Linked DNA regions of Homo sapiens. The protein of the gene in region 2 purifies or fractionates together with the protein of the main gene of each other region. This does not show direct contact. Each region holds a gene or a part of one and is shown on either strand. Other genes may lie near its edges.

Region 1 (3,500 bases), on a different chromosome or scaffold from region 2:
TTCATTCGTTTACATTTTCTAAAATCATGCTAGATTCCATGTGACAGAATAGGTAAAAATCTCTTCCTCCAGTGATCTCTCATTGGAGATGACACATGACATCAACCTGTACTACCACACAATAGCCCAGGATGGTGCATTAATTTGATAGTGAAAGTCATAGAGGGTTTTAAAGTGTTATATCTGTAAGTTATGTTAGAATGATTACGTAAAACTGTGTAGGGGCACATGGAAAATTAGCCAGGCATGTTAGCGGGCGCCTATAGTCCCAGCTACTCGGGAGGCTGAGGCAGGAGAATGGTGTGAACCCAGGAGGCGGAACTTGCAGTGAGCCGAGATCACGCCACTGCACTCCAGCCTGGGCAACAGAGCAAGACTCCATCTTAAAAAAAAAAAGGGCTACAGCGATGTTCCATGTTGTTCTCTAGAGTGGGGTGTTTACACTTCAAGGGTATCCGCTGAAGTGTAGGAAGAAAATATTCAAAACTTCCACATATCTCTTTTTCCTTAAAAAATTTAACATCATTACTACTTTTCTTGTACACTGACATTGGTGCCTTGACTCTGTCTATAAAGTAAATAGTTGTGTGTCAGATACAGTGAGCCAGATATCTCAAGGGAGGAATACGGCAGATAGGGCTTGCAAGTGGTGGTCTCACTTGTTTATTTAGACGACTATTTAACTGTTTATGTTTGCTTAGTTAAGCGGATTCATAGATGACACTGAATATTCTGCCAAAGATAGAGAGTAGTTATAAAAGTATGCTGGTTATCTAATGGGTTAGTATTTTTAAAAGTTGTAGAACCAGGCTGGCAAGGTGGCTCATGCCTGTAATCCCAGCACTTTGAGAGGTCGAGGTGGGCAGATCACCCGACGTCAGGAGATCAAGACCAGCCTGACAAACGTCGTGAAACCCCGTCTCTACTAAAAACACAAAAAATTAGCCGGGCAGAGTGGTGTATGCCTGTAATCCCAGTTACTCAGGAGGCTGAGGCACAAGAATTGCTTGAACCCAGGAGGTGGAGGTTGCAGTGAGCCGAGATGGCGCCACTGCACTCCAGCCTGGGCGACAGAGCAAAAGCTGTAGAACCTAAAGATGATCCATGCACTTTTCACAAAAAGAAAAATATTCCAAATTTGCCAATCTTTTTATGTAACCCAGTAGACATTTTTAAAAATAAATACGCTTAATCTGTGTCTTCCAAACAAAAGCAACATTTTAATAGTTTGAGGAAGACAATTGTTTTTTGAAAAAAAAAAAACTTGTTCTGTGAAGGTTGTGAAAAGAAAACTGATTATATCTACATATGGCACTGCTGAAAACATGTCTCCTATAAAAATTGCAATCACACACTTTAAAAATGTGGAAACAGAATATTGTAATGCATTTAAAACTCTTCCAAATCTACATTTTTCAGAGGGTTACAAACTCAATTGGTGAAAATAGAAAAAATTAATTTCTTCTGAAAGGTTTGTAGGAACACCTGTTTGACAACTGGAGATGAAAACTCACTAACTGGACTTGAAAAAAAGCCGCTCCATAACTAATGGAGCATAATGAAAAATTAAAGTACTTGAGACCACCTATCAACAATGCACTTCTCTACAATCCCTCAGTTATGTATGACAGCCCTTCAAGACAAAATCATACTCAGCTAAGAAGCAGACTTTTGTTTCACTACATCACAATTAGTTATAATACACATTGTATTATTAGTGGAAGTGTGTATGTATAATAACATTTATAGCCTGTAATCCCAGCACTTTGGGAGGCTAAGGCGGGTGAATCACCTCAGGTTGGGAGTTTGAGACCAGCCTGGCCAATGTGGTGAAACCCCATCTCTACTAAAAATACAAAAATTAGCCGGGTGTGGTGGTGCATGCCTGGAATCCCAGCTACTTGGGAGGCTGAGGCACAAGAATTGCTTGAATCCAGGAGACAGAGGTTGCAGTGAGCCAAAACTGCACCACTGCATTCCAGCCTGAGAAACAGAATGAACCTTTGTCTCAAAATAAAATATTTATAAATAACATTGGGGAATACATGTTCAAAAATTTTACTGAGGTGAGCACAACTTTGCAGACCAATGATACAGATTTTAGATACATAACTGTGATTAATGGGGACAGAAGCATCAAAAGAAAAGCTATCCCTATCAAAATACCAATGACAAATATAAATATAAAAAAAAGAAAAATACCAATGACATTCTTCACAGAAATAGAAAAAAAAATCCTAAAATTGTTATGAAACCACAAAAGATCTAGGATAGCTAAAGCTATCCCAAACAAAACAGCAAAACAAACAAAAAAAAACAACAAAAAAAACACAAAACAAACCTAGAGGAATCACATTACCTAACTTCAAATTATACTATGGACCTATAGCAACCACAACACTATAGTAATGGCATAAGAACAGACACAGAGACCAATGGAACAGAATAGAGAACCCAGAAACAATTCCACACACGTACAGTGAACTCATTTTCGACAAACGTGCCACGAACATACACTAGGGAAAAGACAGTCTCTTCAATAAATGGTGCTGGAAAAACTTGATCTCCATATGCAGAAGAATGAAACTAGACCCCTATCTTGTGCTATATACAAAAATCAAACCAAAATGGATTAAAAAACTAAGACCTCCAACTACAAAACTACAAGAAAACACTGAGAAAACTCCAGGTCATAGATCTGGGCAAAATTTCTTAATATCCCACAAGCAAAGGTAACCAAAGCAAAAATGGACAAATGGGAGCACATCAAGTTAAAAAGCTTCTGCACAGCAAAGGAAACAACAAAGTGAAGAGACAATCCACTGACTGGGCAAACTATCCACCTGACAAGGGATTAATAACCAGAATACAGGCCAGCGCGGTGGCTCACGTCTGTAATCCCAGCACTCTGGGAGGCTGAGGCAGGTAGATCACCTGAGGTCAGGAGTTCGAGACCAGCCTGGCCAACATGGCTAAACCCCATCTCTACTAAAAATACAAAACAAACAGCCAGGCATGGTGGTGCACACCTGGCATCCCAGCTACTTGGGAGGCTGAGGCACAAGAATCGCTTGAACCTGGGAGGCAGAGGTTGCAGTGAGCTGGGATTGCCCCATAGCACTCCAGCCTGGGTGACAGAATGAGACTCCATCTCAAAAACAAAACAAAACAAAATCCAGACTATATAAGGAGCTCAAACAACTCTATAGGAAAAAATTCTAATTATTGGATTAAAAAGTGAATAAAAGGGCCAGACATGGTGGCTCACACCTGTAATCCCAGCACTTTGGGAGGCTGAAGTGGTTGGATTGCTTGAGCCCAGGAGTTCAAGACCAGCATGGGCAACATAGTGAAGCCTCGTCTCTACAAAATATATAAAAATTAGCCAGGCATGGTGGCATGCACCTGTAGTCCCAGCTACTTGGGAGGCTGAGGCATGAGAATCACTTGAATCCAGGAAGCAGAGGTTGCAGTGAGCCAAGATCGCACCACTGCACTCC
Region 2 (3,500 bases):
CCCACCCCCAAGATTGCTGTGTGTCTCTTCCCTCAAGAGCTCACTCTCAGCCCTGTCCCTTGGCATTGACCATGGAGCCAAGGCAACTCTTCCATGGTGGCCTGCGTTATCAGTGACACCCTGGGGTTGGATCCATCACTCTTGGTGGGCCTGCACCCACCTCCTGGGAACAGCTTGGGGTCGGGTGTGTGATTCCCATCTCCAAGTCTGGCTCTAGGCTGGCATAGACATAGGCCTCCAGTTGGATGTGATTATCAGAGAGGATCCTGGGAGAGTATCCATCCCTGGCCTAGATCTCCTTCAGGAAGATTCAGGCCCTCTACAGACAGCTTGCCCCTGCCCCTCCCTCCCACTCCCGCCTGCTTCCTGGGGGAATGCTAGTACCGCAGTTTCCCGATATAGCTGTCCCCTCCTCGAGACAAGTCTGTTGGGTCCACAGAGATGAGGTAATTGGAAGTTTTACTCTTCTTTCTCTTCCTTCCCGCCAGGAGGAACACCTTGGGGAGTGGAATGAGGTCATATTCCAGACTCAGCCTCTGGTCTGCACACAGTCATGAGAGCCACTCACACAGACTCTCTCCGTTGCGTCAGCTCCCAAACGCACATATGTGCACACACACAAATGCACTGGAAAACACAAAGATGTGCACAGACCAGACACGAAGGCAGTTTCTTTGAGGAACTGAGAGGTCAGTGGTAGATATGAGACTTCCAGTCACATTTCAGCCCCTAGGATTTCAAAGGGCTGTAAAGCCTAGATGATAACATGCCCAGACCAACCTTACCTTCTTCCCATCCTCACGGTCCAGGTGCAGAAAGTAGGTGGGGTACATGCCCCGGTCCATCCCTTTCTTGTCCCGAGTGATGCGGCATTTGATGGTGATACCCTGGGGGGCCGGCCTCAGTGCAAACTCCTCAAGATCCTGGACCTCAACGTCCACTGGTTGCTCTGGAGCTGTTGGGCTAGGGGCTGAGGCTGCCTCCTATGGGGATGCAGAATAGGTGCCTGAGCCCCAAGGACCCTAAGCAGCCCAAATTGGTGGTCTGGGATCCAAATCTGCCTCCTAACGTGGCGGTGGGAGAGAGGGAAGGATCCTGGGATTGGGGCCTGGCCAGCCTGGGCCTGGGGTCAGAAGCTATCTTCCCAGCCCTGCCCTCAACAGTTCCTAGAGGTGGAGATGGGAGATACGGGAGGTCCTCAGAGGTCATCCTGTCCAACTGCATCTCCCCCCATACATCACCCTGCTGGCCTAGCTGAAGAGGTTAGGAGGCAAGGTAGAGGGACATAAGAGGCCAGCAGAGAAGCTCCTAAAGGCATACGAGTCCATCTCTTCACATGCAGTCCACCTCTAACGGATGAGCAGTCCTCCAAAAACTGCTGTGGATGCAGACTCACTCACTCACCCTGACGGACTTCCTGCTAGTAGCAGAGCTGGGGCGGGTGTTACTATTTAGCTGGGAGGAGCTGGAGCTATTCTCCTCCTCATCCTCCTCATCCTCGTCAAAGCTCATGCTGCTGGAGATGCCTGGGCCAAGGAGAGAAGAAGAAGGGATGAAGGAGGAGAAGTCTACGCTGCCCCTGAAATACACATGGTCACATACTCATGTTCAGACACTGACTCACCTGTACCCCCACAAACTTATGCACACACTCTTAGCCATATCTACACATATAGACTCCCATTCACACATATATTCCCACACATGTCCAGATATAAAAGGATATTCTCTCAGGTACACACATGAGCCGGGGCTGGCCACAATCCTCAGGATATATCCCCACCACCCAGTTTCAGCTCAGTCCCTACATTACCCCACTACCTAGCAGCCACCCTACCACTGTCTCTTGTGTATCAAGGCCTGCACTGAGCTCACCTTGAACTGGGAATCTCCATTTCTGACCTCAGGCCTATTAGAGGCCTTGGCTGGCATAGACCACGGAATCTGCCAGGGCACAGGCCTCAGCTCCTTCCTCAGCCCAATGTGGAGGGGACCCACTGACTCCTCATCTTTGCCCTGAGCTTCTATCTCAGCTGTCCTCCCGCCTGCCATTCCCTGGGAATGCCATCCCCATCCTCAAGTTGTCTCAAAGTCCTTTGTACAGGAAGCCATCCTTGATTAGATTCCTCACAATGTGTGGCACTGCCAGGCTTCTTCCCTCTGCCACCCTGCACCAGGGGCTCCCTAGGGCAGGGCTTGTGGTGGGAAAACTGAACAGCAGGTTTCCACGGAGGATCTACCCCGTCTCTTGGTATCCTGGCCCTGCTCCCAGTAGCTCAGCAAACATATGGGAAACTTCTTGCAAAAGGAGCTTTTTCTAAGGAGCAAAAGGAAAAGGAAATCTGCCCCCAAATCAGGGCCTCCCTGGGGCCTTAGCAGGGGCCCTGCCTAAGAGTTTCTCATTTGTCTCCGAAGTGTGCCCCACCCTCACCCACCATTGCCAGGGAGGGGTTTGGACACAGGAAGGCCATGCTCCCAGAGAAAGGTGCATCTGAGAACCTGGGACTGAGTTTTGGGGGTATCACTGGGTCCCCATGGGGCTCACCCTTCCTCTGCATCGTGGCACGGAGATCCTGCCCGCTGGGCCGTTCGCCCCCACCAGCTGCCGTCTCCCCTGCGTCCTGGGCGTGGTCTGACTGGCCCACAGTCAGAATCTGCACTGGGCCTTGGGCCTCAGACTTGTCTTCTGCCAGTGCTGCTGGCCCGCTGGTGCCTGCAGGCCACGGACACGCCTGAGTTACATCCAGGAGGAGGAGAGGAGGGCCTGGATTCTCAGACGTCCATGAAGGGGATGAGGGAAGAGTGGGGAAACCCTCTGCAAAACTTTATTTGCAAAAGTGATTTTTATAAAACTAATGATTGCACCAGCCTGTTAACAACTGGTAAGCTAGTAAGGGATGTGGGCTTCATTTCTTCTGCTCTTCCCCCAAATTAATTGCCGAGGGTTGGTTTACAACACCTCACGTCCTTAAAGCAGACGGCAGCCATCTACAAAACCAACTGCACAGTGGAAAAACAAGATGGAGAACAAGGACTGATCCAGACCATAGGCAAGGCCAGCAATCATTCATGGACACGACCAGCTACAAGCCATCAATGCTGGTGTTTTCTTCCACAAACAGACACAACATACACACGTGCAGTAACTCACATACATCATTAAAAACGTGGGCCCCTTGAGAAAGATTGCAATTGGCATACACTCGCCTTCCCAAATGGAGCATCTCCCATCCTACGTCAGCTTTCCTGCCCGTTACCACAGAGCTTCAGCAACAGAAGCAAGGCCTGACCCACACAGGTGGCAGCCACCCTGCCCGCCTACTGAGCTATGCCCAGAGTGCTCGGCCAGCTCCAGAAGCCCATGGCCTGTGACACATCACTGTCCAACCGTGACGCAGTGGCCTGGAAACCACTGTCCGTGAACAAAAGTTGAGGAAACGGGGTGTGTAGCCAAGAGACAGGACCTGGGGCAGGTACCGCCAATCACTGTCCTTAATCTT

The links.
Region 1: the proteins of TUB (region 2) and MAK16 purify together in Homo sapiens (affinity purification with mass spectrometry; one large-scale study listed by BioGRID and IntAct). This does not show direct contact.

What each region holds. Positions count from the first base shown.
Region 1 is NC_000008.11:33,491,682-33,495,181, reverse strand, and holds part of MAK16 (protein MAK16 homolog), read right to left. Parts: intron 1-3,500.
Region 2 is NC_000011.10:8,094,711-8,098,210, reverse strand, and holds part of TUB (tubby protein homolog), read right to left. Parts: exon of another isoform or gene 2,714-3,500; coding exon 2,546-2,713; exon of another isoform or gene 1,527-2,545; coding exon 1,405-1,526; exon of another isoform or gene 984-1,404; coding exon 786-983; exon of another isoform or gene 498-785; coding exon 385-497; exon of another isoform or gene 1-384. UniProt on the Homo sapiens protein: Functions in signal transduction from heterotrimeric G protein-coupled receptors. Binds to membranes containing phosphatidylinositol 4,5-bisphosphate. Can bind DNA (in vitro). May contribute to the regulation of transcription in the nucleus.